4 linked regions of the Homo sapiens genome follow. The protein of the gene in region 2 interacts with the protein of the main gene of each other region in a pairwise test. Each region holds a gene or a part of one and is shown on either strand. Other genes may lie near its edges. The genes, in order: RNF4, ARK2N, MORC3 and SUMO1.

The links.
Region 1: the proteins of ARK2N (region 2) and RNF4 interact in binary tests that used the Homo sapiens proteins (3 or more experiments, as listed by UniProt).
Region 3: the proteins of ARK2N (region 2) and MORC3 interact in a two-hybrid assay, tested with the Homo sapiens proteins (one large-scale study listed by BioGRID and IntAct).
Region 4: the proteins of ARK2N (region 2) and SUMO1 interact in binary tests that used the Homo sapiens proteins (3 or more experiments, as listed by UniProt).

What each region holds. Positions count from the first base shown.
Region 1 is NC_000004.12:2,510,606-2,518,808, reverse strand, and holds the end of RNF4 (E3 ubiquitin-protein ligase RNF4), read right to left. Parts: intron 6,854-8,203; coding exon 6,844-6,853; intron 6,372-6,843; coding exon 6,212-6,371; intron 5,727-6,211; coding exon 5,678-5,726; intron 5,140-5,677; coding exon 4,990-5,139; 3' UTR 2,952-4,989; downstream 1-2,951. UniProt on the Homo sapiens protein: E3 ubiquitin-protein ligase which binds polysumoylated chains covalently attached to proteins and mediates 'Lys-6'-, 'Lys-11'-, 'Lys-48'- and 'Lys-63'-linked polyubiquitination of those substrates and their subsequent targeting to the proteasome for degradation.
Region 2 is NC_000018.10:46,178,325-46,186,527, reverse strand, and holds part of ARK2N (protein ARK2N), read right to left. Parts: intron 1-8,203. UniProt on the Homo sapiens protein: AMPK substrate important for exercise capacity and skeletal muscle function.
Region 3 is NC_000021.9:36,372,422-36,379,592, reverse strand, and holds the end of MORC3 (MORC family CW-type zinc finger protein 3), read right to left. Parts: coding exon 7,062-7,171; intron 4,451-7,061; coding exon 4,297-4,450; 3' UTR 2,961-4,296; downstream 1-2,960.
Region 4 is NC_000002.12:202,215,394-202,223,596, forward strand, and holds part of SUMO1 (small ubiquitin-related modifier 1 isoform a precursor), read right to left. Parts: intron 4,714-8,203; coding exon 4,639-4,713; intron 1-4,638. UniProt on the Homo sapiens protein: Ubiquitin-like protein that can be covalently attached to proteins as a monomer or a lysine-linked polymer.

The sequences.
Region 1 (8,203 bases), on a different chromosome or scaffold from region 2:
CCGTACCCAGCTACTTTTGTATTTTTAGTAGAGACGGGTTTCACCATCTTGGCCAGGCTGGTCTTGAACTCCTGACCTCGTGATCCACCCACCTCGGCCTCCCCAAGTGCTGGGATTACAGGCGTGAGCCACAGAGCCCAGCTTAACAACACATTTCTCAGAACATATCCCTGTAAGGTGGGGCGCAGTGGCTCACGCTTGTAATCCCAGCACTTTGGCAGGCTGAGGTGGGTGGATCACTTGCAGTCAGGAGTTCGAGACCAGCCTGGCCAACATGGTGAAACTCTGTCTCTACTAGAAACAGAAAAAATTAGCTGGGCATGGTGGTGCACACCTGTAATCCTAGCTATACTCTGGAGGCTGAGGCAGGAGAATCGCTTGTATGTGGGAGGTGAAGGCTGCAGTGAGCTGAGATCATGCCACTGCATTCCAGCCTGGGTGACAGAGTGAAAATCTGTCTCTGGAAAAAAAAAAAAAAAAAAAAAAAAAAAAAAAAAAAAAGAACATATCCCTGTAGTTAAACAACATATAACTATGTTACCCAATACATTAACTGATTAGAGAGGCAAACAAATCTTGTCTCAATAGAAGCAGAAAAAGGACTGGTAAGATTGAACATTCACTTGTGACCAAAAACAAAAATAGAGAAACCCTGTCTCTACTAAAAATACAAAAACTAGCCAGGCGTGCTGGTGCATGCCTAGCTACTCAGGAGGCTGAGGCAGGAGAATCGCTTGAACCCCGAGGTGGAGGTTGCAGTAAGCCGAGATTGTGCCACTGCACTCCAGCCTTGGCAACAGAGCAAGAATCTGTCTCGTTAAAAAAAAACAAAAACAAAAAACAGAAATTGAAGACAAATGCCACTAGGTGTCATGGCTCATGCCTGTAATCCCAGCACTTTTGAGGAGGCCGAGGCAGGCGGATCACCTGAGGTCAGGAGTTTGAGGGCAGCCTGGCCAACATGGTAAAATCCCGTTTCTACTAAAAATACAAAAATTAGCCGGGCATGGTGGTGCATGCCTGTAATCCCAGCTACTCGGGAGGCTGAGGCTGGAGAATTGCTTGAACCCAGGAGGCGGAGACTGCAGTGAGCAGAGATTGCACCACTGCACTCCAGCCTGGGCGATGAGTGAAACTCCGTCTCAAAAAAAAAAAAAAAAAGATAAATGCTTATCTCATGGTAGGAAAATGAACCTCCCTCATCTGACAGTTATCTAACTAGAACCTACAGCAAACATCTTTCTTGATGAAACACTAAAACACAAACACCATTTGTGTGTAATAATAATGTACTGGGCTAGGCTGGGCGCGGTGGCGCACACTTTTAATTCCAGCACCTTTGGGAGGCTGAGGTAGGAGTATCGCCTGAGGCGAGGAGTTAAAGACCAGGATGGGCAACGTGATGAGACCCCCGTCTCTACAAAAATAGAAAAAAAGAAAAAAGAAAAAAAAAATAGAGTTGGGGCTGGGAGTGGTGACTCACGCCTGTAATCCCAACACTTTGGGAGGCCGAGGCGGGCGGATCACTTGAGATCAGGAGTTTGAGACCAGCCTGGCCAACATGGTGAAAGCCCGTATCTACGAAAACTACAAAAATTAGCTGGACATGGTGGCACGTCCCTGTAATCCCAGCTGGTTGGGTGGCTGAGGCAGGAGAATCGCTTGAACCTGGGAGGCGGAGGTTGCAGTGAGCTGAGATCGAGCCACTGCACTCCAGCCTGGGCGACAGAGCCAGACTCCGTCTTAGGAAAAAAAAAAAAATAGCAAGGATTCTGGATACACAATATAGAGAATCAATTGTTTCTATGCTGCCAAAACAAAACAAAACCACCCCCCCACCGAAAAAGTTAATACAGACATCTTTTGAGTTTCTATAGCCAGCCTTGGGGGCTCCCTCCTTTCCAGGACCAGACCCACTCCAGCAGTACCAGTCTTAGGGATACACTGCTCCCTGCCTCCCCTAGGCTTGCTCCTGGGGTAAAGAACTGCCAGGCCCTGGGTAGCCACCAGAAGTGTCTGGTCCAATGCCTTTAGGTATCGGGGAGCCTGCAGACCCTACTGTATGCCAGCAAGAAGCTCTTTCTCATAACTTTCACAGGCCTGGCCTGGGGTCTCTGGAATTCTTTCCTCTTTCCCTAGAGAGCTTTCTGGACCTTGAAGATGGCAACTTAGCAGCCCTTATTCAGAGAGAGCTTTCTGGACAGCTTCAACTTCTTCCTGCTGGATCTCCTGGTTTCCCGTACCCCACCCTCATCAGTTTCAATTTTCCAGTGGCCTGGGGGACTGTCTCCTCTGTAAACATGTTCCATGATGTCTGTCTCACTGCCCACAGAGCCAAAAGTGCAGTGCCAGGAGCATGGTAAGCAAACTGCACTGGATGGTAGGCCTTTGGGACCCAGGCAGCCAGCATGTTAGCCTTTCTAGTCCCTGGGGACAGCTGGATAGGTACAGAGGGCAGAGGCAAAGGGAGAGCTTGGCCACACTGCCAAGCCCATTCCCTCCTTGTGGCTTTGCTGGCACTGCTCGCCTGTGGCAGTGGCTGGCATATCCATGCACTCCCAGTGCTGACTCCCACTCAGAGGGCAAATTTTGTATCTAGGTGGTCAGGGGCAAAGGGGGGTGCTGCAGTGCAAGGTTTCCAGGGCAATCTCAGTCCATCCCACTCAGAGCAGCACCCCCAGCACCTCTGAGAGACTGGCCGAGCTGAGCAGACAGCTCCTTGGTCAACCTTGCCTCTCAGAGTAGACTCTGCTCTCTTAGGGACTCCAGGGCTTGGGCTTGTGGCTGTGCTCCAAGAACAGCCTCTCACATGCTTGCTGGATTTAGGACATGGAAACTTCCTGAACACACACCAATGCAAAATACACTCAACGTGAGGCAGATAAGAACCCCGCACCTTGGCAAAAAGGGGGGAAATTGATTCCAAAGAGCAAATGAATGTGTAAAAGATATTTGGTTCAAATTAATGGTTTTATTTCCATCTGTAACACTAGCAGAGGAGTCCAAAGCAGACTGATATCCATGGATATAGTTTAAATGTAACAAAGAAAGAGTTGAACTATGTACATTGAAAAAAGGAAAGACATTTCTTCATACCAACCTTTCCCTAGTTCGCAGTTTCTGAATAGTAGAAACAAAACACATTTTTAAATCTTTCTATCAATTTAATTTAGGACGAAGTAACACAACTTTTATAATTAACCACTGAAGTTGTCTTTAAGGACAAAACTTAAATTTTAAAATGGGTGTTACCATATTTTATGAGTGGACTGACTCCAAGGTTGCCTTGCTCCAAGTCTGGGCATCGTGACATTGCCGTGATGCCCAGAAGAAAGTTAATGGCAATGATGTCCAGTCAGAGGGCAGACATGCTACACATCACAATGATGAGAGCTGCGGATTCTGCCCTCTTCAACTCCAAGTAGAAAATTATTATTTTCATTCAAACTAACTGGAAGTGAGCCAAACAGTTAAAAAGTCAGAATGAAGAATAAAACAATTTTCTTTTCACATAGAGGAGGGACACTCCTTCAGCCCCGTCTAAAGTGAATTCTGTGCTGAGTCCCTGCTCCTTCAGAAGGGTAAACTGAAGGTCAGTTATTGCTAACAAAGCCAGAAGTGGCCCCTTTCCCGCCCTGAAGATGTTTCACACGAAAAGGCCGTTTGTTTGGCGTGAGGCCCTCTGAGGAAGGACGACAGTGGAAGAGGAGGCATGCCGGCACTGTAAGGCCTCTCTCGTTAGCCACCCCCCAGGCCCTGTGCTGTCAGGGGCAGCTTGGGCCACTTTGCTGCCCCTGAGAGAACCTGAGGCTCCCGCGTACCTGTGGAGCGAAGGAGAGGTTGTCATCTGGGCCCCTGTTTCACCAGTCAAAACCTATGGAGCAGTCAGAAGCCCGAAGCATCCAAGCCCAGTGGCCAGGAAGCTTCTGAAATAAACGGCACTGGGTTGGGAAGGATGAGAAAGCCAAGACAGGTGGGCCAGGTTCTCCGAACATGGGGCAACAGTGACCTGGGCAAAAGCCTGGAACTGAGCGGCTGATAAGGCCACAATTACTGCCACCACCTCTCAGTATCTACACGGGGGCAGACGTTAGGCAGTGGGAACTGAGGACTGGAGGGCGTGTGGCAAACACGGGATGGATTTTATCAGAAAAGAGAGGACACCCAAACACGTGCCTGCCCTATTTATCTTGCATGTCCTGTGCCAGGTGAAGGACGCTGGAGCATGGGTAAGGTTCCTGAGAACAACTGGTGGGCAGAAACGGGCTGGGATGGGCACTGCTCCACAGGCAACATTAAGCCTCTGAGGGGGACACTAATAGTGCTACATCTTGTGGGCTGCTGAAAAGTAGGTAACGAATGGCCTTTATTGCACTTTTTCGTTCTTAGGAAACAGGGGAGTGCCCTGCAGAGTTTCTCTTGATTTGCAGAAATCACTGCAGATCAATGATAAGGTGCAGGCAGAATCACGGGTGACCTCTGACTCTCAAGGGAAGAAGTCCAGTGATTGGTCTTTCCAGGGCCTCAAGGGGCCACTCTTCAACCTGGGATCCTCGAGCTGGGTGAACCGGGTCTGGCTTGGTCAATGTGTGGCAGGCAGATTGGTCGACCGGCAGACACTTGGGACAAAAGGTGGTGTGCCCGGGAAAGCTGGGGCAAACTTTCCAAACAGGGAAAATTTCTTGGCAAATGTGCAGATTCTGCAACCAGACTGGAACCACGATTCCCAATGCGCCTGACTCCCTTTCTCCCACTCTAGAACTGGACCACCCCAGAGGAACAGAGATGGCCTGGGAGGGCCCTGGGTCCAGCGCCATAGCATCAAACTGGAGATAACAAAAGGAAGGGGTTGGAAACAAAAGAGCAGTTTACATATCAGATGTTGGTTTCGAAACAGTCTTTTTGATCTCAGGAAAATGGAGGCAGATACCACTGGAGAACCTGGCTGTCTGTCTGTCCATCCGTCTCTCCTGGGGGGCTCTGAATACTTCATATATAAATGGGGTGGTACCGTTTGTGGTTGATCTTTTTCCTACAAGTTGGGCAAGTATTAGCATTCTTCAGGGAATCACGGAGGCACTGGCTACAGAAGACATGGCCGCATTCTGTGGAAACGATGAGACGTCCATTCTGCACGATCTAGAAGGCATTAAAAAGAAGAGCCTCCGAGTTTGCCCTTGTCCCAGAGCAGCCATGGGGCCAGAGAATCCCACCCACCTATGCCTAAGATGACTAATTAAAGGAAAGCAAGGGCCAGGCTACAACAGGGAGGGGTCTGGAGAGCTAACTGTGTCTGCTGTGGTCTCTCTCAGCTGGAGAGCAGGAGGCAGGGGCCATGGCATCTCAACAGTGTGACAGCCCAAGAGGGTTATGAGGGACCCCAGTAAACACTAGCAGCTTTCAGTTAGAGCCAGGATGGGGCACAAAAAAGGAGGACGCATTTGCACCCGGAAGCTCAGGGCATACAGGAGTATAGGGGCTGAAGGTGAAAGTTGTAGGGTCCAAGGAGAAACTGGCACATTCTCCCCTCACAGGCAGATCTGCAATAAGTGACGGCCCAGGCATGACTGTGAGTAGGGGTGTCCAATCCCACCGAGGGGGAAGATCCTGTCTCATCCAATTCTTTCAGTGAAGTTTAGAAACCAGAAGCCTGGAAGATACAGCTTGGTTTACTTACCTCTGAGTATCCGTCCATGCAGATGGGACAACTGACAGTACCTGAGGGCCTAAGAGCACAGTGCTTCACGTTAGTTTCTCAGTCAACGCAAACATTTTATTATACCCTGTCACGTGAGTGGCCCCTATCCCCTACAAGAGTCCCGTCCCTGGCCTCCTGACTCTGCCTTAGCGCGGGCATCCGAGAGACTTTCAGGAAAGCCAACTGCCCCAAGGGCATGTGGGAGGGTGAACATGAGAAGGTGCACACAACCTGAGTCACCCTGCCCTCCCCCAGGCCCCTACCAGCCCCAGGATCCCTGTCTGGGGCCACTGGGACTGTCTGCACACACTGTGTCAGCGCTTGGCATCCTCTGGTTACAGTGGGAATAGCTGGACTCAGTTCTGGACCCAGTTCCAACTGTATCCAGATGCTGGGTAGAGGCTTGGGCAAGCCCTTCCAGGGCCAAGGGCTCACAGATTTGCTGAAAAGTATTCCCATGCCCTGGCCCCACATCCTAGCATGGCGGCAGCAGAGCTGGGGGCACGTTGGTACCTGAGGCCTGTAGCGCCCTCATCCCTGGCGTTTCTGGGAGTATGGGTAGTCACATATACGTCTCTGTCCCTGGACAACTCCTCATCGTCACTGCTCACCACACAGCTGTCAGCATGGTCCTGGGGCAGCCTCCTAGCATTCCTCCTTGGTCTTCTTCTTTCTAAGGTAAGAGGTCACATTTTCAGGTTGGAGGCTCTCTACTCTTACCATCCTCACCACTCCCATCCTGACGCCTCTTAAGACCCTCTTCCTTCCCTGCCTGGGACCCCCAGAGACAAACTGCTGCCATGCTCAGCTATAACCCAGAAGGTTCTGCCCAGCTCTGGAGGCCACTATCTTATCTTCCCAGGAGAAACCCCCCAACCCCTGCTGTGAGCTACCAGCCTTCTCCAAAATCTGGTAGGCCACAAGAAAGGACTATAGCTCAGTGCTCAATGATAGTGGTGAAGTTTCTTCAGCAGGCACAAGGGGGACTGGCTGTGTGGGTCTGACCACAGCATCTGCGAAGGCATCTTCCTGCTTGGAGCGCTCCAAGCCCTTGGGGATGGTCTGGCAAGACCTGCAGCACCGCGGCTCTCACCTATGCCAGTTTCCTCTCCAAACCCAGTGAAAAAGGAAACGAAACCACTCACCGTCAACAATCTTGTAAACAGAAGGAGAAAAACAAAAGAGAAAGAAGCAATCAGTTTGATATAAGTGATAAACGAAGCCATTTCTTTTTTCTGACGTGTGACACCCTCTGTGGAACCCTCTGGTGAGCAGCAGAGGCCCCACCCTCCTCCCACCCACAGAGGATCTGTGCACCTCTCCCAGTCAGTCAAGCCCACTTCCCAAGTCACTCCACCTCCCAGCTGATGTGCTGTGTCTCTCCCTGCTGGGTGTTTAGTGGAGTCTCCTGGAGCGTGAACACAGCCACAGCCACACCATGTGCTGACTGCAAGACCTGGGGACCTTCCTTACTATCTGGGGGCTGCCACAGCCACACCATGTGCTGACTGCAAGACCTGGGGACCTTCCTTACTATCTGGGGGCTGCCACAGCCACACCATGTGCTGACTGCAAGACCTGGGGACCTTCCTTACTATCTGGGGGCTGCCACAGCCACACCATGTGCTGACTGCAAGACCTGGGGACCTTCCTTACTATCTGGGGGCTGCCACAGCCACACCATGTGCTGACTGCAAGACCTGGGGACCTTCCTTACTATCTGGGGGCTGCCACAGCCACACCATGTGCTGACTGCAAGACCTGGGGACCTTCCTTACTATCTGGGGGCTGCCACAGCCACACCATGTGCTGACTGCAAGACCTGGGGACCTTCCTTACTATCTGGGGGCTGCCACAGCCACACCATGTGCTGACTGCAAGACCTGGGGACCTTACTTACTATCTGGGGGCTGCAGCTTTCTCTTCTGAAGCAGAGTCACCAGAGCCCACATCTGACTGTGCTGTTGTGAGGGTTACGTGAGGCAGTGAACATTTAGACAGCACTAGGGGCATGATGCTCTCTCAAGCTGACGCGACCAATGTAGGCCACTGCCAAGGTGGAGCCTTCATGTGGAGGAGGATTTGCATTGCTCAGTAGGTTGTTACAAGTAACTAACAGAGAAAAGCAGGCTATGCATGACCAATGCGTGTGACACACACCAAGGATTGAACACAATCCAATTCTCTGTCCTGGGGGCCTAAGAACCTGACAAGCCTCTCACCTGCCAGCTCAGAACTTACATCTAGACAATTTCTGCTCCAACAGTTTCAAACGTGGTTCCTCCCACCTTCTGGCCAAGTGCTCTTACCCATCTAGGGGGGCCAGTGGAACGCCCTTTCCCTCTTGCTGAGCACGTAGGAGGGGCTGTTTCAGGAAAGTTCTCACCACCAAAGCCCTACTGCTCACCTCACCCTGCCTGTCCCCTGGGCAGGACATCCTGCCCTACAGTGACAAGAAGCTCTAATCCTCTACTCTGACTCCCGTGCAGCCAGGATCCTAGACGT
Region 2 (8,203 bases):
GTCTCAAAAAAAAAAAAAAAAAAAAAAAATCACCAGTTGGGTGCGGTGGCTCACTCCTGTAATCCCACCACTTTGGGAGACCAAGGCAGGAGAATCATGAGGTCAAGAGATTGAGACCATCCTGGCCGACATGGTGAAACCCAATCTCTACTAAAAATACAAAAATTAGGTGGGCATAGTGGCGTGCACCTGTAGTCCCAACCACTCGGGAGGCTGAGGCAGGAGAATCGCTTGAACCTGGGAGGTGGAGGCTGCAGTGAGCCGAGATAGCACCACTGCACTCCAGCCTGGCGACAGAGCAAGACTTTGTCTCAAAAAAAAAAAAAATTCATGATAATCAGCTGTCCATCTTTAAAAACCACTCTCCATAAACTTTTAAATCAATCAATAAAAATAATAAAATAAAAACACTCCTAGCTCTTTGTGAAAGTTTGCCTATTCTATACCTAAACACTTCAAAAAAATGCCCCCCCTCCCTGTCCAAAATGCCCAACTTAAGGTATTTTCGAAGTTTTGCCTGTTTTTTTATTTTTATTCTTTGAGACAGGGTCTCACTCAAGCTGCCCAGGCTGCAGTGCAGTGGCACGATCTCAGCTCACAGAAACCTCCACCTCCTGGGTTCAAGCGATTCTCCTTCCTCAGCCTCCTGAGTAGCTGAGATTACCAGTGTAAGCCAGCAAGCCCAGCTAATTTTTGTATTTTTAGTAGAGTCGGGGTTTCATCATGTTGGCCAGGCTGGTCTCAAACTCCTGACCTCAAGTGATCTGCCCGCCTAGGCCTCACAAAGTACTGGGATTACAGGCATGAGCCACCACGCCCGGCCTTACCTGGTTTTTTAAACAAGAATTGAGGATAGGGAATATGCAGACTGGAAAACAAGAGACAAATTGCAATGCATGAAGATAAAACTAGAATGAAGCAGGGCTTTCAAACATTATTGTGGACCTACTTCCTGCTGGCTTTAGCAATTGTCACAAAAAGACTTAAAAGTTATTTCAGTTAGACAAGTTGGCTAGCACAGTAGAGAGCTATGACAATGGTGGAAGACAATCACAATACTAGTAATCATCCAAGAAAATTAACACCTAACAATTATTACCTGATTTTTCTGACTGTGGCACATGTGCACACACAGAGCTATCAGAGGAAATTTAAGCCCAAGAAGTTAAGAGTTAACTTTATACATGAGGGAGGAGAATAAATAGCACACTATGAGAAAGACAACTGAAAAGAAACAAATTATGCACCTAAATGTTTTTACTTACTCCCTCAGCCCTCTATGTTGCATCTCCCATGAAAACAGGGATCATGTTCAGTATCAGTTCACTCACAGTTCCTAACACATAATCAATATCTGATATTTGTTGAATTGATCAACTGAATCTTTTAAACCAAGACCACTAATGAAACAACTTGTTTGCTTAAAAGTACTATTCATTTGTATATGAAAATACATTCCATTACATAGAATCAACATGATTTCTCACAGAGTAACTTCCCTTTTCTTTCTACATAAAACCTAAGACAAAAACTGACTCAACTGCTAATAGCCTAGTAAAGCTGTTTCCTTACATTTAGAATACTGCATTTAAAGTGATTGTGTGTGTATACGCAAATATGCAAGAATCAGGCACTATGAAACTAAGTATCTTTGGCTACATAACCACAAAATGAGGTAGAAAGCAGTATCTTACTAAAATTCAAATGAAGGCCCCTCTCCTTACACATTCAATTCTATGAAGAGACTCCATTGCATTCATAATACTCATCTTCCTAAATCTTTGTTGTTGTTGTTGTTGTTGTTAGAGACAGGGTCTCACTTCTATCACCCAGGCTGGAGTGTAGTGGCACAATCACAGCTCATTGCAGCCTTACCTTCCTAGGCTCAGGTGATTCTCCCACCTCAGCTTCCTGAGTAGCTGGGACTACAGCCGCATGCCACCAAGCCAGGCTAATTTTTGTATTTTTAGGAGAGACGGAGTTTCACTATGTTACCCAGTCTGGTCTCAAACTCCTGTATTTAAGCCATCTGCCCACCTTGGCCTCCCAAAGTGCTGAGATGACAAGTGTGAGCCACAACACCTGGCCATAAATTTTGGTTTTCGAGGCCGGGCGCAGTAGCTCACGCCTGTCATCCCAGCACTTTGGGAGGCCGAGGCAGGCAGATCACAAGGTCAGGAATTCGAGACCAGCCTAGCCAACATGCTGAAACCCCGTCTCTATTAAAAATACAAAAACTGCTGGGCGCAGTGGCTTACACCTGTAATCCCAGCACTTTGGGAGGCCAAGGCAGGCAGATCACGAGGTCAGGAGTTCGAGACCAGCCTGGCCAACCTAGTGAAACCCCGTCTCTACTAAAAATACCAAAAATTAGCCAAGCGTGGTGGTAGGCACCTGTAATCCTAGCTACTCAGGAGGCTGAGGCAGGAAAATCGCTTGAACCCAGGAGGCAGAGGTTGCAAGTAGCTGAGATCATGCCACTGCACACCAGCCCGGGTGACACTGTGAGGCTCCGTCTCAAAAATAAAATACAAAAATTAGCCAGGCATGGTGGCACACACCTGTAATCCTAGCTACTCAGGAGGCTGAGGCAGGAGAATCGCTTGAACCCGGGAGACGGAGGTTGCAGTGAGCTGAGATCGCGCCACTGCACTCCAGCCTGGGCGACAGAGCAAGACTCTAACTCAGAAAAAAATTTTTTTAAAAATTTGGTTTTGAAGGACTTCTTTCAATTATTTGCTGGGATTTTGAGTCAGTTTTCCCACCAAGAAGCTGCAGCATAGACAATGCAGACAATGCAAGAACCAAAGATTAGGACTAAAATAAAAAACACTTACAGAAATACAATATAGTAGAAAGAGCCCTTTTCTCCACAGCAACTCATCCCTTCCCTTAATCCTCAAAAGAAAGAAAAGTTTGAAGAAGCTATAAACAAGCATAAAAGACTCAAACTAGGACTGATGAGAGAGGATGCCCCATTCAGAGTAAGGAATTATGAGTAACAAATTAACACAACTGGGCAACGATCACCAACAGCTACTAACATCACAGGGAACCAAATATTATGCACCTACTGATCCAAGTACCATCTATAAAGTATTCCCCTCATCCCCTGCAAAAGAAGCAAGAGAAAGAATATATATTATAGAAACAATCTGATCAAGCTTCTAAATCTAATACCAATTAACTAGAAACCCAGGGGTCAGAGAAAAACGTTTACCACCACCACCACAGAAATCCAAAGGAATGTAACTGCTAAATCCACACTGGGAAAACTTCTTTTGTAACTAATAATCTGCTAGGGAAAAGAAATGGAGGGGGAACCTACAGATTACAAAACAATGCAGAGACCTTATTTGGCTCTTGATCTGACACATTTATGAGATAAGAGGGAAATCTGAACACTGACTATCATATTACATTAAGGAACTCTTCCTTTTTTTTTTTAGTGTGGTAAGTTTTTCGGTTTTCTTTCCTTCAACAGTGAAGCTGACTGGGAAACTGGAGTGCTAAAAAGTTAGAGTACAGAAAGGGAACTCTAATATTAATACAGCTGAATGGATCTGTCCATAATGCACTGAATTTGGCCTACCCGGAACTTAAATATAAATTGTGAGATTGCAACCACCAGAGATCAGCTTTGCTTGCTTGCCAGCCAACTTTTTCTCCACTGATATAAACTCTATAAATAGGTCAAAGGTGATAATGGCTGCTCAAATCACTTCATATTGCAGATATTACTACTTCTGGCATGTACCTGGACCTGCACCAGGGCTGTGAATAAACTAGCATCAAGTAAGAAGCCAAAGAAGTTATCAAATGCAAAAAAAAAAAAAAAAAAAAAGCACTGTGGCTAATGACTCTCTAAAGTACTCAAAAGCATCATCAGTGTAAATCAAGAATAATTTAAAACAGAGGTTCTTTTAATTTTTAAAAATAATTTTTTAATAGAGACAGGGTTTCACTTTGTTGCCCCGGCTGGTCTAAAACTCCTGGGCTCAAGCTACCCTCCCAACTCTGCCTCCCAAGGTGCTGAGATTACAGGTGTGAGCTACCATGCCTGGCCCTAAAACAAAGGTTCTAAATTTTCTCCAAGATTTCTGCCCTGGTCATTTTCTATCTCCTTCAGAAGACAATTCACATAAAGATGGATAACCACATGCCAGGAACTGAGGTCCCAAGATAAAAGCTGCCAAAATTCTCTCCACTATACACACCTTCAGGCTCACTGCAAAGTGCTTAGTTGATTTCAGCAGAGAAAAATAGTAAGAAACCCTTGACACTAAACTGTTGATTTAAGAACAAGCTATGATTCTATGCTAGGTTAAAACTAAGGCAGACAGGATACTGCTTAAAATTTTAACCACATGAAGTTTTTGTTCTTAATACAGAAAGAAAAACAATCCTGTTTTCCTTAAATTTTAGTCCACACCCAACTTCCCTATCCCCGACAATACCTTTCTCTAATTATAAGGCACCTAACAAAATGCAGACTCCAGACATTATTGTAAAGGTCATTTTTTTAAACTAGTCAACTCAGTAAAAAAATAACTTCTACTGGTCACTTTGGTCAGTATCTTGTTTCTCTAATGCTAATTATGCTAATAAAAACTTAATTTCAGCCAGGCACAGTGGCTCACATCTGTAATCCCAGCACTATGAGAGGCTGAAATGGGAGGATCACTTGGGCCCAGGAGTTGGAGACCAGCCTGGCCAACATAGTAAGACCCCATCTCAATCAATCAATCAATCAATCAAAATAAACTTAATTTCTAGACTACCCAAGCACAATTCTAGTTTTTTGTTTTTTTTTGAGACGGAGTCTCGCTCTGTCGCCCAGGCTGGAGTGCAGTGGCGCGATCTTGGCTCACTGCAAGCTCCTCCTCCTGGGTTCATGCCATTCTCCTGCCTCAAACCTCCCGAGTAGCTGGGACTACAGGTGCCCGCCACCACGTCTGGCTAATTTTTTGTATTTTTAGTAGAGACGGGGTTTCACCACGTTAGCCAGGATGGTCTCGATCTCCTGACCTCATGATCCGCCGCCTCAGCCTCCCAAAGTGCTGGGATTACAGGCATAAGCCACCATGCCTGGCACAATTCTAGGTTATATACATTCTTAGGAATGGCTGCTCTAAGTTTTAACAGATTTAATGTTGTTTCTCTCTGAACAACAATCAGAACTTAATACATGAACTTGAATTACAAGCAAATGTATTTTGTAAATGAACTGGCATTACAAAAAAACGACATTTCCCCCCCCACCTCCCGAGAGGGAGTCTTGCTCTGTTGCCCAGAGCTGGAGTGCAATGGCATGATCCCTGCTCACTGCAACTTTCACCTCCCAGATTCAAGCAATTCTCCTGCCTCAGCCTCCCAAGTAGCTGGGATTACAGGCGTGCACCACCACACCCATCTGATTTTTGTATTTTTAGTAGAGACACGGTTTCATCATGTTGGCTAGGCTGGTTTCGAACTCCTGATCTTGTGATCCACCTGCCTCGGCTTCCCAAAGTGCTGGGATTACAGGCGTGAGTTACCATGCCCAGCCCAAAAAACGACATTTAAGTTTCCAGCCTTTTAAAGCTTAGAGATACCAAGAAAAATGCTATTTTCTAATACCTTATTTAAAATGAATTTATAAGGGAAAACACTAGTTCCATACTACAGTTGTTTTGTTATGCAGTACTTTTTTCCCTTATAATCTACTTTCTCTTCTCCACATTTTAGAGCAGGAAGGAAACTCAGAAATCATCTGGTTCACTAGGTTGAGTTCTGTGGGCAGAGACTGCTTGCTTGTTTTGTTTTTATTGTTGTTTTTTTTTTTGAGACAGAGTTTCCCTCTTGTTGCCCAGGCTGGAGTGCAATGGCACAATCTTGGCTCACCACAGCTGCCTCCCAGGTTCAAGAGATTCTCCTGCCTCAGCCTCCTGGGTAGCTGGGATTACAGGCATGCGCCACCATGCCCAACTAATTTTGTATTTTTAGTAGAGACAGTGTTTCTCCAAGTTGGTCAGGCTGGTCTCAAACTCCGAACTTCAGGTGATCCGCCCGCCTCGGCCTCCCAAAGTGCTGGGATTACAGGCGTGAGCCACCGTGCCCTGCCCCAAACTGCTTATTTTATGTGCCCATTACCACCTGGCATGTAAATGCTCAGTAAATGGGTTTTTAATTTAACCAGGTATAAATACCACATATGCATTAAGTCCCTGCTGATAGATTTCCACTTTAGATTAATTGTCACTTAACTAGAAAATACTCATTTAGGTAGGTTTTAAAATTATTTAAAGTCAAGTTAATAATTTAGGAATTTACACCATCTACCTATTAAGTGGCAGAGTCTGAGCAAAGAGGAATGAGGTCCCTTATTTTGAACAGACATGAAAGAGAACAGAAACAAAACTTAAAACACTGTAAATTAAAGCCAAAATTCCTAACAACTAATCAAACAACTTATCAAATCTCAGTTATATTGGCTACTTTAAAGTATTTTAAAATCACATTTACTATTATCAGCTGCTACAAATATGTTCCGATAAATCTGTATAACACATAGATCACATAGTTTCCTCTCCTAGCAGTTCAGGAATATAGAAGAGAACTTTAGGCCGGGCGCAGTGGCTCACACCTGTAATCCCAGCACTTTGGGAGGCCAAGGCGGGCAGATTACCTGAGGTCGGGAGTTTGAGACCAGCCTGACTAACATGGAGAAACCCCTTCTCTACTAGAAATACAAAATTAGGCAGGCGTGGCAGCACATGACTGTAATCCCAGCTACTCGGGAGGCTGAGGCAGGAGAATCGCTTGAACCCAGGAGGCGGAGGTTGCGGTGAGCGGAGATGGCGCCATTGCACTCCAGCCTGGGCAACAAGAGCGAAACTCCGTCTCAAAAAAAAAAAAAAAAAGATAACTTTAAAAAAGCAAGATTACTTTTTAGTTTCACCCTGCTCCTGCTCCTTACTTTTACAAGGCCCTGTAGGCTGAGTGTGAAAACTGACTGACTGAACATCAATCCCACTTCTGCTGAGAGAAGCTGCCCACACAGAAGTAAAAAACACTGCTTCTTTAAGTGGAATCATAAGAGTTCTGAAAAAGTAAGGAAAAGAGGTACAGGTAAAGGCTAAAAGGATTCAGAAGAGTATCATGACAACAGTCAAACTCAAAACCAAGACTGGAAATTGACAACTAAAGAAAAATAACTATCAGATTTATTTAATCTGATGACCAAGAAATCAAAATAAATAAACCAAACTAAAATAAATAAAACCAATAAAATTTATATTCACTGGGCTGGGCTCAGTGGCTCACCTCTGTAATCCTAGCACTTTGGGAGGCCAAGGTGGGCGATCACTTGAGGTCAGGAGTTCAAGACCAGCCTGGCCAACAGGGTGAAACTTCGTCTCTACCAAAAATATAAAAAATTAGCTGGGTGTGGTGGCACGCGCCTGTAATCCCAGCTACTCGGGAGGCTGAGGCAGGAGAATCACTTGAACCCAGGAGGCAGAGGTTGCTGTGAGCAGATATCCTGACACTGCAGTTCAGCCTGGGTGAAAGGGCAAAACTCCATCTCAAAAAAAATTTGTATTCACTCAACTTAAGGATAATAAAGAAAAATATTTTTGTTGTTTTTTTTTTTTGAGAAAGAGTCTCAGGCAGTGGCATGATCACCACTCACTGCAGCCACAAACCCCTGGGCTCAACTGCTCCTCCCATTTCAGCCTCCTGAGTAGCTGGGACTACAGGCGTGTGCCACCACACCCAGATAATCTTTTAATTTTTCTGTAGAGACGGTTCTGCCATGTTGCCCAGGCTGGTCTCCTGGGCTCAAGCAATCCACCGGCCTCAGCCTCCCAACGTGCTGGGATTACAGGCATGAGCCACTGCACGTAGCCCCAGAAAAATCTTTAAAAAGTTATGTCAGGGCCAGGCATGGTGGCTCCCGCCTATAATCCCAACACTTTGGGAGGCCGAGGTGGTGCATCACCCGAGGTCAGGAGTTCGAGACCAGCCTGGCCAACATGGTGAAACCCTGTCTCTACCAAATACAAAAATTAGCCTGGCATGACGGCACATGCCTGCAATCCCAACTACTCGGGAGGCTGAGGCAGGAGAATCACTTGAACCCAGAAGGTGGAGATTGCAGTGAGCGGAGATTGTGCCATTGCACTCCAGCCTGGGCATCGCAGTGAGACTCTGTCTCAAAAAA
Region 3 (7,171 bases), on a different chromosome or scaffold from region 2:
CTACGCCAATCAGATATTAATAGCATTCATCTTGTGAGCTGTGACCAACATTCAACAGACAAATATGCAGATAGGATTCTATTTAGATTTTCAAGCCACTTCAGTGAGTCCCTGTTTATGAGACACTGCACAAAATAGGACTTAACCAGTCAGGCGCGGTGGCTCAAATGCCTGTAATCCCAACAATTTGGGAGGCCCAGAAGGGTGGACTGCTTGAGTCCAGGAGCTTAAGACCAGCCTGGACATGGCGAAACCCCATCTCTACAAAAAATAGAAAAATTAGCTGGGCATGGTGGTGCACGCCTCTAGTGCCAGCTACTCGGGAGGCTGAGGCAGCTGGAGCATTTGGGCCTCGGAGGTTGAGGCTGCAGTAAGCCATGATCACACCACTGCACTCTAGCCTGGGCAACAGAATGAAACCCTGTCTCAAAAAAAAAAAAAAAAAAAAAAAAAAAAAGACAACCTACTGTGGATTTTCTGAAATAGGAAGAAATGGGTAGTGTGTCTGGGTAGTTTTTGGGTGGTGTGTGGCCAAATTAACACAAGCTTTCAGCTTCTTTACAGCAAGAAGACAAGAACACAGTGGAAAAGAATAGGCAAAGAACATGTATAAAACACAGAAAATTAAAATGGCCAATGTAAGGACTGAGACAAATGTCAGCTGTCATATTTTCACATATCAAATTAGCAAAAGTAAGTTTGAGAGACTTTGAGGAAAACACTCATATTTATTACTCATCCTAAGTATAAATTCCTGCAACCTTTTTTTGGATGGCAATATTTATTTAAATGTACATGGCATACATTCTTTGACCTATCAATATTCACTGTTAACAATTTACACTCTGGATTTAATCGGAAAATCATGTGTGGTATGTATTAATCTTCACAGTATACTTTGAGACGGAGTCTCGCTCTGTCACCAGTCTGGAGTGCAGTGGTGTGATCTCGGCTCACTGCAACCTCTGCCTCCTGGGGTTAAGTGATTCTCCTGCCTCAGCCTCCCAAGTAGCTGGGATTACAGGAGCCCACCACCACGCCCAGCTAATTTTTGTATTTTTAGTAGAGATGGGGTTTTACCATGTTGGCCAGGATGGTCTCGATCTCCTGACCTCATGATCCACCCACCTTGGCCTCCCAAAGTGCTGGGATTACAGGCACGAGCCACTGCGCCCAGCCAGTATATTCTTTCTAACGAAAAGTAAGTAAGTAAGTAACCATTAGGAGCATATTCCTATGATGAAATGTTACTTAAGCTTTTTGAAAGAATGATATGGAAATGTTTAGTTATCAATTATATGGTATAATCCCACTGTGTAAATATCGACACAAATATACGCAATTTAATGTAAATAAAATACATACACATGAATGTGTGCATGTATGCACACAAAAGCCAATAGTGGTTACCTTTAGAGGCCGTGGAGAAAGTCTTTTCACTGTTCATTTACATCTCTACCGGGGCACCGCTCTGCTTCCCCTCCCTCCCCCTGCTTGCCCCAGTGAGAAAGTGGATATGCTGATCCCGTTTGTTTCGTGAACCACTCAAGTTCAACATTTATAAATACTCAACAGAAGACACAACTCAACAGTGCTTGGCTCTGATGGTGCACTGGAATTAACCCGGGAGGCCTTGAAAAATACTGTTATCTGGGTCTAACCCCAAGGACGCTGACTTAATTAACGTGAGGTGCAGCCTGACTTTGGGAGTTTAAAAAACTCCCCAAGTAATTCTACTACGCAGCCAGAGGTGAGAACTTAAATGATTCCTCAATGATGTATGACCCAAGTTTAAGACGTCTCATGTGACAGCAAGAATCAAGCGTCTGAGATCACAGGCAGCGTCACCAACTGGACCTGCCACATGAAGAATTTGAGGCCCAAAGGAAGCACACAGGGACGTGCCATGCCCTCCTGCTCTGTGTGCTCACTCAGCTTTCACTGATTTTGCCACCCTAGGTCCTGTTTGAAGACTGTGGACTGTTTTGGTTTACTTCCTCATACCTTTCGTGTTTTAAAGTAATAAACATTAGTTGAAGCAATACTGTCCCCCACATGCAACAAAAGAAAGAGAAAGGTACATACATCATGAAAGCCCACGTTGTTCTGTTAAACAACAGTTGTTCTGTCTGCAACTGTGAGCCACATTTTCGAAGTCTCATATCTTGGCAATACTTCAATATCTTCATAAAGAGCAAAAAGTATCTAAGTGCTTCCAAAGAATCAATTTAGCAAGCAAGTTTCTCTTACTAATCCCATGATTAATTTTCCCATCAAGCCAGACAGCTACAGGAAATATTTTTGCAAGAATACATAGAGAAGCTGGCCAAAAGGAAGGGAAAAATAGCAAATTCCAAAAAGAACCACTGCATGAGTTAGATATTCACAAAACTTACATATGATTTACATAGCTGCTATTATTTAGGCAAGGTTTCTCTAGAGTAAATGATTTATACAAAGAAAAGTCCTTTTTTTTTGAGACGGAGTTTCGCTCTTGTTGCCCAGGCTGGAGTGCAATGGTGTGATCTCGGCTCGCTGCAACCTCCACCTCCCAGGTTCAAGTGATTCTCCTGCCTCAGCCTCCTGAGTAGCTGGGATTACAGGCATGCATCACCACACCCGGCTAATTTTGTATTTTTAGCAGAGACGGCATTTCTCCATGTTAGTCAGGCTGGTCTTGAACTCCCGACCTCAGGTGATCCGCCCGCCTCGGCCTCCCAAAGTGCTGGGATTACAGGCGTGAGCCACTGCGCCAGGCTGAGAAAAAGCTTTTGAAAACAGAATATACATGCTCTGAGGAAAGAGGAGCTCAGCCTCAGTCTTAATGGAAACAGTCTTCAAAAAATAAACTGCAATTAAAGTAGTTAAAATGAGCTCAAGTTGAGGGTCTAATGAATACATTTTTAGTTTTAAAATAATTTGAGGTTAATATTAAGTCTTTAAAAGTAGCATTTGAACAGTTAGCCATCATATATTTTTATTTTATTATAAGATATTTTAAAATTTGGGAAATTACAATTGTGACAGAAAACCAGCTTCATACCAAAAATACACTTTCAATTACTTTATCAGGCAAATAAAAACAATCTTCATTTATTTGCTCTTTCCAGAATTACTATACAGTAAAAATTCAATACTGTATATGACCGACACGTATTAAGCATACATACAAAATGAACGGATTGAATGTTCAAAAACAAAGGTAAAAATAAATAGCAATGATAAAACTTTGGAAAAAATAATGCACATTTTAGTTGTGGAAAATATGGTTCTTATATATACATAGTTTATACTTAATAGAAAGCCATCTCTTTAAAATTGCACAAAACATGGGACCAATAAAGCATAGTATTTTATGGCATGTAATACTATAATCCTAAGGAAATTTGTTCCTTGACTCTAGGATATAAAACACTTAGGTTTGTAATATAATAAAAGGTATGTAGTATTGTTTGAGAAAGACTGTCTTCCTCAACTCACATTAACCTGTAGTAATCCTACAAAAGGCTGTACAGGAAATTTCACAAAAAGAAATATTAAAAAATTATCATGCCCACTTCATGCTGACTAAACAGCCAAAAATGGGCTTCAAAGTAAACTTGGTGGCCATTTAATATTTCAATACCTTTTTTCTGTTAAAGACTGTTTCTTCATTCTATAAAAACACTTTGTGTTTAACCGTGATTGGCAATCTCAGCACAACAAAATCCTGGCAAAATGGAGTTGGTTTTTGCTTACCTTATTTTCATGAATAAAATATTTCAGGACAGGAATTTATACAAAAGAAACATTAATGCTCAATTCACTTATAACCAGAGTTGTATCAGGAGTGTTACTACATTATTTAAAAATCCTATTTAAACTCCTTTATAAGAAAATCAAAGGTAACATTTCCATTTGTATTATGGCATAGCCCTCGACTTAGAGAAAAATACACTTTGGGGAACCAGAAAAAATTGCACAAAGCTTAGGGGCAACCTGAAAAGCTCTTGGTGAAAAACACTTGAGTACTCTAGGGCAATAAAAAAATATGTGCAGGCTTAATTACAAATATTTACATTCAAAACAGAGTCATGAGTTAGCTTCAGCTGCTCAATGCCAACAATTCACAGGTATTTCAAAACATAAGATAATGTGTCCACAATATTTGTGACCACATTTGAATGCATAGAATACAGTAAAGATTATGGTTTTCAGTCTGTTGCCTATCATATCTATAAAACAAAATTAATTATATTTTGAAAGCTGTACAACCAAAAGAATTGAGCAAATATTTTATCTTACATAACATATACTTTAAGTACTACTGATTTCACTCATTTGTTCAACAACTTGTCCTAAAATCTCATCAACTACATCAACATCGTAATTCACTTGCTGAAGATCAAGATCAGGCACAATCATAGCCAGCAGTTGTCCTACGTTAACTCGAAGAGATCGGAGTTTGAGGCTGCAAATACAAATATGTAACTTATTAGATGAGCATTACAAGTTAAGATTCATGTAGACCTTAAAAAGTAAAATATCAAAATCAAATCTCCGTAGAATAATATACAATTAAACAAAAGGAAAAGCAAAACCTCCCCTAGAGAACTCAATTTACTTTAATAATTCACTTTTATGAGTCAGGTGCACTTGCCCATGCCTGTATTCCCAGCATTTGTGAAGCCGAGGAGGGAGATCGCTGGAGCCCAGGAGTTCGAGACCAGCCTGGCCAACATGGTGAAACCCTGACTCTACTAAAAACACAAAATATTAGCCGGGCTTGGTGACGACACCTGTAGTCTCAGCTTCTCAAGAGGGTGAGGTGGGGGATCACCTGAGCCCAGGAGGTCAAGGCTGCAGTGAGCTGCGATGGCACCACTGCTCTCCAGGGTTCACGCAATTCTCCCACCTCAGCCTCCTGAGTAGCTGGAAGCACAGGCCCACACCACCATGCCCGGTTAATTTTTATTATTATTATTTGTAGCAATGGGGTTTCACTATATTGCCCAGGCTGGTCTCAAACTCCTGGGCTCAATCAAGCATTCTGCCCACCTCAGAGTGCTGGGATTACAGGCATGAACCACCATGCTTAGCCAGAATTATCTAAAACATGTTCTATAAGATATCCATAGTTGTGTAAGAGGTAATAAAAGGTTCTGTGGTCAAATAAGCTTGCAAAACATTGTGTTAAACAATGTTAAAGCAGCTTTTTTTTTACGCCGGGCACAGAGGTTCACGCCTGTAATCCCAGCACTTTGGGAGGCTGAGGCGGGCAGATCGCCTGAGGTCAGGAGTTCAAGACCAGCCTGATCAACATGGTGAAACCCCGTCTCTCCCTAAAAATACAAAATGTAGCTGGGCGTGGTGGCGCACACCTATAGTCCCAGCTACTGGTGAGGCTGAGGCAGGAGAATTGCTTGAACCTGGGAGGCAGAGGTTGCAGTGAGCCGAGATTATGCAACTGTACTCCAGCCTGGGCATCAGATCAAGACTCTGTCTCCAAAAAAATAATAATAATAATAATTGTAGGACTGCTCTGATCCTATTACATGCTTAAGTTACCGTGCATTTACAGAGAACAATGGTTTGCTGAAAACACTGGGAAACCATAGATTAAGATAATTATGCCTTCCAAGTTTATGAATATCAACATTCTAGACTTTTTAAAAAATGCCCAAAAGTATTTAAGCAATAAACACCTAAACTGTAAGGCAGCTTTTGCTTCAAATATTATGGCAAACACATAAAATGAGTGTTACAGTTGTTCTTGTTCCCTACCCCACTACAATATAATAAGTCCATATTTAATTTAGATACTGATTTTTCTCGAGTGGAAATCTATGAAGGGATCAAGATGTTCTTCCTTAGTCTGATAATGCGGAGAATGTGATTTTGAGCATGTTTTTTTGTGAGCTTTTATGGTAAGAGTCCACTAGACCTTTGATAATACTTTAATCGTTCCCATACCAGCTTTTTTTTTTTTTGAGACGGAGTTTTGCTCTTGTTGCCAAGGCCACAGCGTGATGGCGCGATCTTGGCTCACTGCAACCTCCTTCTCCCAGGTTCAAGCGATTCTCCTGCCTCAGCCTCCCAAGTAGCTGGGGTTACAGGTGTGCACCACCATGCCAAGCTAATTTTGTATTTTTAGTAGAGACGGGGTTTCACCATGTTGGTCAGGCTGGTCTCGAACTCCTGACCTCAAGTGATCCACCCATCTTGGCCTCCCAAAGTGCTGGGATTACAAGCATGAGGCACCACGCTTGGTTTTAAGACAGAGTCTTGCTCTGTCACCCAGGCTGGAGTGCAGTGGCGCAATCTCGGCTCACTGCAACCTCCACCTCCTAGGTTCAAGCGATTCTCCTGCCTGAGCCTCCCGAGTAGCTGGGACTACAGGCGCCTGCCACCACGCCCGGCTAATTTTTGTACTTTTAGTAGAGACAGGGTTTCACCATGTTGGCCAGGCTGGTCTTGAACTCCTGACCTCAGGTGATCCGCCCAACTCAGCCTCCCAAAGTGCTAGAATTATAGGTGTGAGCCACCACGCCTGGCCTATCTACTTGTTTTAATAGGACTTCTTCCTAATATCATCTGTACTATGGCAATTTTTAATAATTTTGCAATTTCCTAAAAGATTAGAGTGAGCATACAGTGAAATAAGGACAGCAAGCCATAAAGACATGGTACCAAGTACGACAATAAAAGAAAAACAGGTTGAAGGAGTGAGTTTCAGTAAAAGTCTCCTGTCTTCTACTCATGGCCAAATTCCCCCTATTCTTCAATATCTTGTCCATTTTTATTTTCCTTCAAAAAGCATTCTAAAACCACTCTGACCAATCAAATGCTTTATCCCTTCTAAATTCCTATTCCACTTAAATAGAACCTAAAGGGTCAGAAACTGGAAAGGAAGGATAATGAAGTGTCACTTCTTTTTTATCTATCATAACACCAGGGTCACAGCAGACCATCAATAACTTCTTTTGACAGAACAGTATCTATTTGATGGGTGCTAGCAGATAAAAATAAATAGTATCCTAACCATAATTGCAGCCCCACAAAAACGCCTCATTTAATATTACCTTTCTCCATCCATATGATTTACAGACTCCTCAATGTTACTTGATGTTGAAACATCTGTTGCCGTCTGTTGATTTGTAGATTTTAACTGTTCTACTTCAGTTTTGAGTTC
Region 4 (8,203 bases), on a different chromosome or scaffold from region 2:
CTGTTACTTGCATAATGTAAACTTTCAAAGCCAAACTTCATGACTACATATCACATTCACAAATGTGTATTTGCAGAAGCTGCACATTTACAGTATTTTTCTTGTGACTGTAACTATGAAGAAATAAAATTATCTTCACATAGATCATTTCATAAACAGATAAAATTCTACAGCAAACCTCATGCTATACATTAAAATCAATTCCAGGCTGGGCATGGTGGCTCATGCCTATAATCCCAACACTTTGGGAGGCCAAAGCAGGAGGATCATTTGAGTTCAGGAGTTCGAGACCAGCCTGACCAACATGGTGAACGCCATTTCTACTAAAAATACAAAAAAATTAGCCAGGCGTGGTGGCGCATGCCTGTAATCCCAGCTACTCGGGAGGGTGAGGCAGGAGAATCGCTTGAACCCAGGACGCGGAGGCTGCAGTGAACCTAGATCTCGCCACTGTACTCCAGCCTGGGCAACAGAGTGAGACGCCATCTCAAAAAAAAAAAAAAAAAATCACTTGCAGATGAATTAAAGAGCTAACATTAAAATTTTTTTGGCCAGGTGCAGTGGCTCACTCCTGTAATCCCAACACTTTGGGAGGTCAAGCCGGGCAGATCACGAGGTCAGGAGTTCAAGACCAGCCTGGCCAACATGATGAAACCCTATCTCTACTAAAAATATAAAAAATTAGCCGGGTGTGGTGACAGTTGCATGTAATCCCAACTACTCGGGAGGCTGAGGCAGGAGAAGTGCTTGAACCTGGGAGGCGGATGTTGCAGTGAGCCGGAAGTACCACTGCACTCCAGCCTGCATGACAGGACAAGGCTCCACATCAAAAAAAAAAAAAAAAAAATTCTCAATATTTTCCCCTCAAGGGAGAATTTTTTTCCCCTAATTTTGGCCTTGGGATGCCCTATTGCAAAGCATGATTTTAACCTAGAAACCATAAAAAAAAGAGGTGGATAAATTTGACTTAATAAAAACATAAAACGTCTGTATAGTAAAAGATGCCATAAACAAAAGTTAAGACATACTGGAGGAAATATTCATAACATGTAACAGACAAGGAAAATGAAGACAATATTTTTAAAAATCCCACAAATTAATAATTCTTAAAAAGACATTCCATGGCATATGGACATATAGATAGATCAATGGCATAAAATTGAGAGCCAAGAAAAAACCCTTATATCTATAGTCAATTTTTTGACAAGGATACCAGAACAATTCAGTGAGAAAAGGACAGTCTTTTCAACTAATGGTCTGGGACAAACACCCATAAAAAATTATTCAAAATGATGAAAGATTTAAATGTAAGAGCTAAAACTATAAATAAAACCATAAAACTTTTTTTTTTTTTTTTTTGAGACAGGGTCTCACTCTGTCACCCAGACTGGAGTACAGTCACGTGATCACAGCTTACTGCAGCCTTGACCTCCCAGGCTCAAGTGATTCTCCCTGCTCAGCCTCCTGAGTAGCTGGGACTACAGGCATGTGCCACCACGCCCTACTAATTTTTTATATTTTTTGTAGAGATGGGGTTTCGCCATGTTGCCCAGGCTGGTCTCCAGCTCCTGAGCTCAAGCAATCTGCCCACCTTGGCCTCCCAAAATGCTGAGATTACAGGTGTGAGCCATTGTGCCCAGCCTTAAAACTCTTAAACCACAAGCGTAAACCTTTGTGACCCTGGATTAGGTAATGGTTTCTTAGATAAATTACAAGCAACAAAAGAAAAAACAGATGAACTTAATTTACCAAAATTAAAAACTTTACGCTGCAAAGAATAAAACCAAGAAAGTGAAAAGACAACTCAAAGATAGGAGAAAATCCATGCAAATCATATATATGATAAAGGTCTAATACCCAGAATAAAAGACATATTACCACTCAACAATAAAAAGACAACTAACCCAATTTAAAAATGGGCAAAAGATCTAAAGAACTTCATTTTTCCAAAGAAGATGTACTAATGGCCAATAAGTACATAAAAAAATGCTTGGCATCATTAGCCATCAGGAAAGAGCAAGTTGAAACCACAGTGAGATACCACTTCACACCCACTAGGATTATAACCAAAAATACGGATAATTACAAGTGTTGACCAGAATATGGAAAAACTGAAACCCTCATATGTTGCTGCTAGGAATGTAAGATGGTAGGGCCACTGCTGAAAACAGTTTGGCAGTTCCTCAAAAAGTAAAACATATAGTTGCATACTAGACCCAGCAATTCCACTCCTAGGTATATATCCAAGGGAGCTGAAAACATATGTCCATACAAAAACACACATGAATGTTCACAGCAACATTATTAATAGTAGCCAAAATATGGGGACAAACTAAATATCAACTGATAAATGGAAAACAAAATATATTCTACCCATATAATGGAACAGAATTCAGCCATTAAAAGGAATATAGTACTGATACATGCTACAGCATGAATGAACCTTGAAAACATGCTAAAACAAAGAAGCCAGGCCAGGCATAGTGGCTCACACCTATAATCCCAGAACTTTAGGCCAAAGAGGGAGAATCACTTAAGCCCAAGAGTTCAAGACCAGCCTGAGCAACATAGCGAGAACCCTGGAGAGGGAGACGGGGATGGGGAGGGGGGGAGGGGAGGGAGGGGAAGAGGAACAGGGAAGCAAGGCAGAAAAGAAGAAACAAACCAGAATAAAAAGTCACATATCAAAGCTAGGCATGGTGGCTCATGCCTGTAATCCCAACACTGTGGGAGGCCGAGGTAGGCGGATCATCTGAGGTCAGGAGTTTGAGACCAGCCTGGCCAACATGGCGAAACCCCATCTCTACTAAAAATACAAAAATTAGCTGGGCATGGTGGTGCACACCTGAAATCCCAGCTACTCAGGAGGCTATGGCAGGAGGGTCGCTTGAACCCAGGAGGTTGAGGTCGCAGTGAGTTGAGATCAGGCCACTGCACTCCAGCCTGGGTGACACAGCGAGACCCTTGCCTCAAAAAAAAAAAAAAAAAAAAAAAGCCATATATCTTATGATTCCATTTATATGTAATGTCCACAAAAGGCAAACCTATAGAGACAGAAAGTAGAATCATGGTTGTCACTGGCTGGAGGAAATAGGATGGGGAATGACTGCTAATGGGTACAGGGTGTCTTTTTGGGGTAATGCAAATGTTCTGGAATTAGTAGTGGTGATGGCTGCACACACTTGTGAATAATACTAAAGCCCCTGAATTATATACTTTAAAATAGTGAATTTTATAGTATGTGAATTTTATCTTTTAAAAGTTTTCAAAATAAAGCCGGCATGGTGGCTCACACCTGTAATCCCAGAACTCTGGGAGGCCGAGACGGGTGGGGATCACCTGAGGTCAGGAGTTCGAGACCAGCCTGGCCAACATGGGGAAACCCCGTCTCTACTAAAAATATTTTTTAAAAAAATTAGTCAGGCTTCGTGGCAGGCACCTGTAGTCCCAGCTACTCGGGAGGCTGAGGCAGGAGAATCACCTGAACCCAGGAGTGAAGGGTGCAGTGAGCCAAGATCACGCCATTGCACTCCAGCCTGCCAACAAGAGCACAACTCCATTTCAAAATAAAATTTAAATTTAAAAAATTTTGAAAATAAAAAATAAAAGTCTTCAAAATAAGATAATCACAGAAAAATGGGAAAAGGGTATGAACACAATTAACAGAAGAATATAAATGTAACAGACCAAAAAAATTATACCTTATTAATAATCAGGTAAATGAAAAATAAACAAAAATGTTTTACCTAGCATATTTGAACAAAATTTAAAGACTGTTAATATCCCATGTTTGGGAGAATATAGGGAAATGGTACTGTCACACTTCAATAGAAATACCACTGCACTCCATCCTGGGCGAGTCCACCCTTCCACCAATTCTCTGTCTTTTGTCCTTTAGAAAACCCACGTAACTATGTAGATTCATTCCTCCAACGGTTGTTAGCTAACCTTAATTAACATTTCAGAATCAATAAGATACAGACTAGAGCCAGGCGCGGTGGCTCACGCCTGTAATCCCAGCACTTTGGGAGGCCGAGGCTGGCGGATCACGAGGCCAGGAGATCAAGACCACCCTGGCTAACACAGTGAAACCCCGTCTCTACTAAAAATACAAAAAAAATTAGCCGGGCATGGTGGCGGGCGCCTGTAGTCCCAGCTACTTGGGAGGCTGAGGCAGGAGAATGGCGTGAACCCGGCAGGCGGAGCTTGCAGTGAGCCGAGATCGCACCACTGCACTCCAGCCTGGGTGACAGAACAAGACTCCATCTCAAAAAAAAAAAAGATACAGACTAGAGTCTAGGGAAATAGGGGGCCAGAAAAGGGTCAGGAAAAGGGCTGATAAACCTTTTACTTAAGGTTGGCCCTAGCCTTAACACTTAATAGTATTCACTGTATTTGCCCCTGAAGCACACTAACCAAGAAAACATTCCTATTTGGAAAAATTAAGATGATCTAAAACTGCCTGGCAGAGTAATTTAAAAAACAGTATCGGCCTCTTCTACCTCTAACAGATGCATACACAGTAAATTAAAATGCATACATAGTCATTTTAAAATAATTTGCCTTAAATAATTTTTTTTCCTGTGAAAAAGTATTCACATTGAAGGGGACTCAAAAGAGAAAAACAATGAAACTCACCTGTCCAATGACTTTGAGTTTAATATATTCACCTTCCTTCTTATCCCCCAAGTCCTCAGTTGAAGGTTTTGCCTCCTGAAAGAAAATTAAATTTCAAGATAAAAGTTCCTACATGCTATTTTAATTACTCACTTATGAGTATCCATTACTTTCATTCAGGATGCAAAATCTGCACCTGAGAATACAAACAGCATTTCTTTTCCATGCCAGTCAATTAAGAAAAAAAAATCCTAAGTCAATTACTGTCCCAAACGCCATTCACTAGAAATCAAGAAAGGGGTCTCTTTTATTATAATACCCCATAGTAATGGTCTAAAACTTTACCACGCATCAAAATCAGCTGAAGGACGTGTTAAACAAACTGCTGGGCCCAAGACCCAGTTTCTTATTCAGCACATTTGTAGTAGGGATAAGAATCTCTTTCTAACAAATTACCAGGTGGTACCGATACTACTGGCCAGAGGAACAACTTGGAAACAACTGCCCTACAGCCAGCTCTTACCAGCACAAAGGAAGTTCATCCTCCATGAATTTTTAGACAAACTTCTGAATCCAAGATTATCTTCTCACAGCCTATCATGAGGAGTTTACTTTAACTACAAAACTGTACTAAGAAATGTAAATTAATCATATTAGCATAAGCAAGGCTATTATTTATTATTTTTTTGAGACAGTTTCGCTCTTGTTGCCCAGGCTGGAGTGCAATGGCTCGATCTCAGCTCACCGCAACCTCTGCCTCCCAGGTTCAAGCAATTCTCCTGCCTCAGACTCCCGAGTAGCTGGGACTACAGGCATGCACCACCATACCCGGCTAATTTTGTATTTTTAGTAGAGACAGGGTTTCTCCATGTTGGTCAGGCTGGTCTCAAACTCCCGACCTCAGGTGATCTGCCCACCTCGGCCTCCCAAAGTGCTGGGATTACAGGCGTGAGCCACAGTGCCCAGCCAAGCAAGGCTATTTAGAAAGGAAAATCAAATAAGAAAGTATTAGCCTAATGTACTCTGGAGTCAAAACGAATCAGTTTTATATAATCAATTATTTTAGACTATCCGAAGCATAATGCTTAAGTTTAAAAGAGGAGACAAAAATAGGAGGACAAGATACTTGAGAGGCTGTGGCACTAGGACTGCTTGAGAGCCCAGGAGTTGGAGGCCAGCCTGGACAACATAGCAAGACCTCATCTCTTCAAAAAAAAAAAAAAAAAGATCACAAAAACAGTTACAAAACAATTTCCAATAAAGAGATACTGAAATGAAAATGAGGTTAACAGAATAAATTAGTTAAAACAACTTCACCATGAAGTATCTCAAGAATAAGCAAATCATTTTTAGTAAAGGGGGTACCTTGGAAAATTTCATGAATAATGTGGTAAAAAAGTAGCTTTTTTTCTCTATGTGCTACACCTTAGTTTGGCCACCAAATTACCCACTTATTTAGATATATACCTTATTATCCGTAATAATTTCAAGCAGTTAATCCGTATTTGATAAGAATAACCATAACCATTACCTGTGTATCTCATGCCAGTAACTTAAAATACAAAATTCTTTAACATTCAACAATTAAAAGAACATATTAAACTAGAAGCAGCTTTTAACTTTAAAATACAGGCTAGAGTCTAGGGAAATGCTTAGATAACAGAACTGATTTCATTAGTATGAATCCTTGCCTGTTTTTCATTCTGCAGTGCTTTTAACATTTGCTGACTACTGACTATTACAGCAGCAGGCAAAATTAACCTTCTTTAGTGAGACAGTATTTCACCTGAAAACTAGAAGACTGTCTTCAAATATAGTCTCTCCACATTTCTATGAATTTATATTCATAGTAAACAGCTGCTTCTTCCTCTAAGTATCTAGAAGGCAAAGAGCTTATTCCATGCAGTGAAGGGCAATAAACAGCAACCAAGCCCTGAGTCCTCTGTAACTGGAAGGAGAGGAGGCCTTAAGAAGCTTTGTTTAAGTTACCACAAAGGACAGCCCCCTCCCCTAGCAGCAATATATCAGCACAACATGAGTGGCTTTGCTCCTGTGTCTCCTAGATAGGGTAGCTATAGCGGCTACTCAGCACAAAAGAATTCTTCCCCTCCTCCCCTCCATCATCCTCAGTGCTTCAGAATTCTCCTAAAGTCCAGCTTCTCCAATCCTGTAACTACTCAGATCAAAAAGCATAAATACCTTCCAGGACTTTAGGGCCTATAACCTAACTCTATAGCATGACATTCTCTGCTTCCACCATCAAGCTCAATTCTCATTTTTCTCTCATCATTCACTCAACATACCCAAAGATTCTGTTCAATTGGACTATTTGCTGTTCCCTGAATATGTCCATTAGCATTACTTCAACTTCAGCCCTTTGCGGCCCTAGTTTCATTTACCTGGAATATATATACATATCCTCTCTCAGCCTCTCTTGAAATCACCTCAAGGATATCTACCTCACACATGAACTTAAGTTCAGTATTTTTTTTTCTTTTCTTTTTTTTTTTTTTTGAGACAGATTTTCGCTCTTGTTGCCCAGGCTGGAATGCAATGGCACAATCTTGGTTCACTGCAACCTCTGCCTCCTGGGTTCAAGCGATTCTCCTGCCTCAGCCTCCCAAGTAGCTGGGATTACAGGAGTGTGCCACCACGCCCGGCTAATTTTTGTATTTTCAGTAAAGATGGGGTTTCCCTATGTTGGCCAGGCTGGTCTCGAACTCCTGACCTCAGGTGATCCACCCACCTCAGCCTCCCAAAGTGCTGGGATTACAGGCTTGAGCCACTACGCCCGGCCTGCTTTTTTTTTTTTCTCTTTTCTATGACAGAGTCTCGCTCTGTCACTCAGGCTGGAGTGCAGTGGCACAATCTCGGCTCACTGCAACCTCAGGTTCAAGCGATTTTCTCATCCCTCAACCACCTGAATAGCTGGGATTACAGGCATGCACCACCATGCCCAGCAATTTTTTGTGTGTGTATTTTTAGTAGAGACAGGGTTTCATCACATTGGCCCAGGTTGGTCTTGAACTCCTGGCCTCAAATGATCTGCCCACCTTGGCCTACCAAAGTGCTGGGATTACAGGCGTGAGCCACCATGTAAGGCCAAGTCCAGGATTTTTTAAAACTCGTCTATGAACCACAGCACTCCCCCAACCTTCCAAATGATATTAATATCTTCCTTTAATGCTCCTACTTGCAATTTATTCATATATTTTATGGCATTTATTTTCAACTTAAAAATACTCTCCCTTGACCTTACTTCTCTAGTCGTTTTTCTCCCCTTTTTTGTTTCTTTTTGTGGTTATTGTTGTTGTTGTTGTTTTGAGACGGAGTCTTGCTCTGCTGCCCAGGCTGGAGTGCAGTGGTGCGATCTCGGCTCACTGCAACCTCTACCTCCCAGATTCAAGCAATTCTCCTGCCTCAGCCTCCTGAGTAGCTGGGATTACAGGTGCGTGCCACCACGCCCAGCTAATATTTTGTATTTTTAGTAGAGATGGGATTTCACTGTATTAGCTAGGATGGTCTCAATCTCCTGACCTTGTGATCTGCCCGCCTTGGCCTCCCAAAGTGCTGGGATTACAGGCGT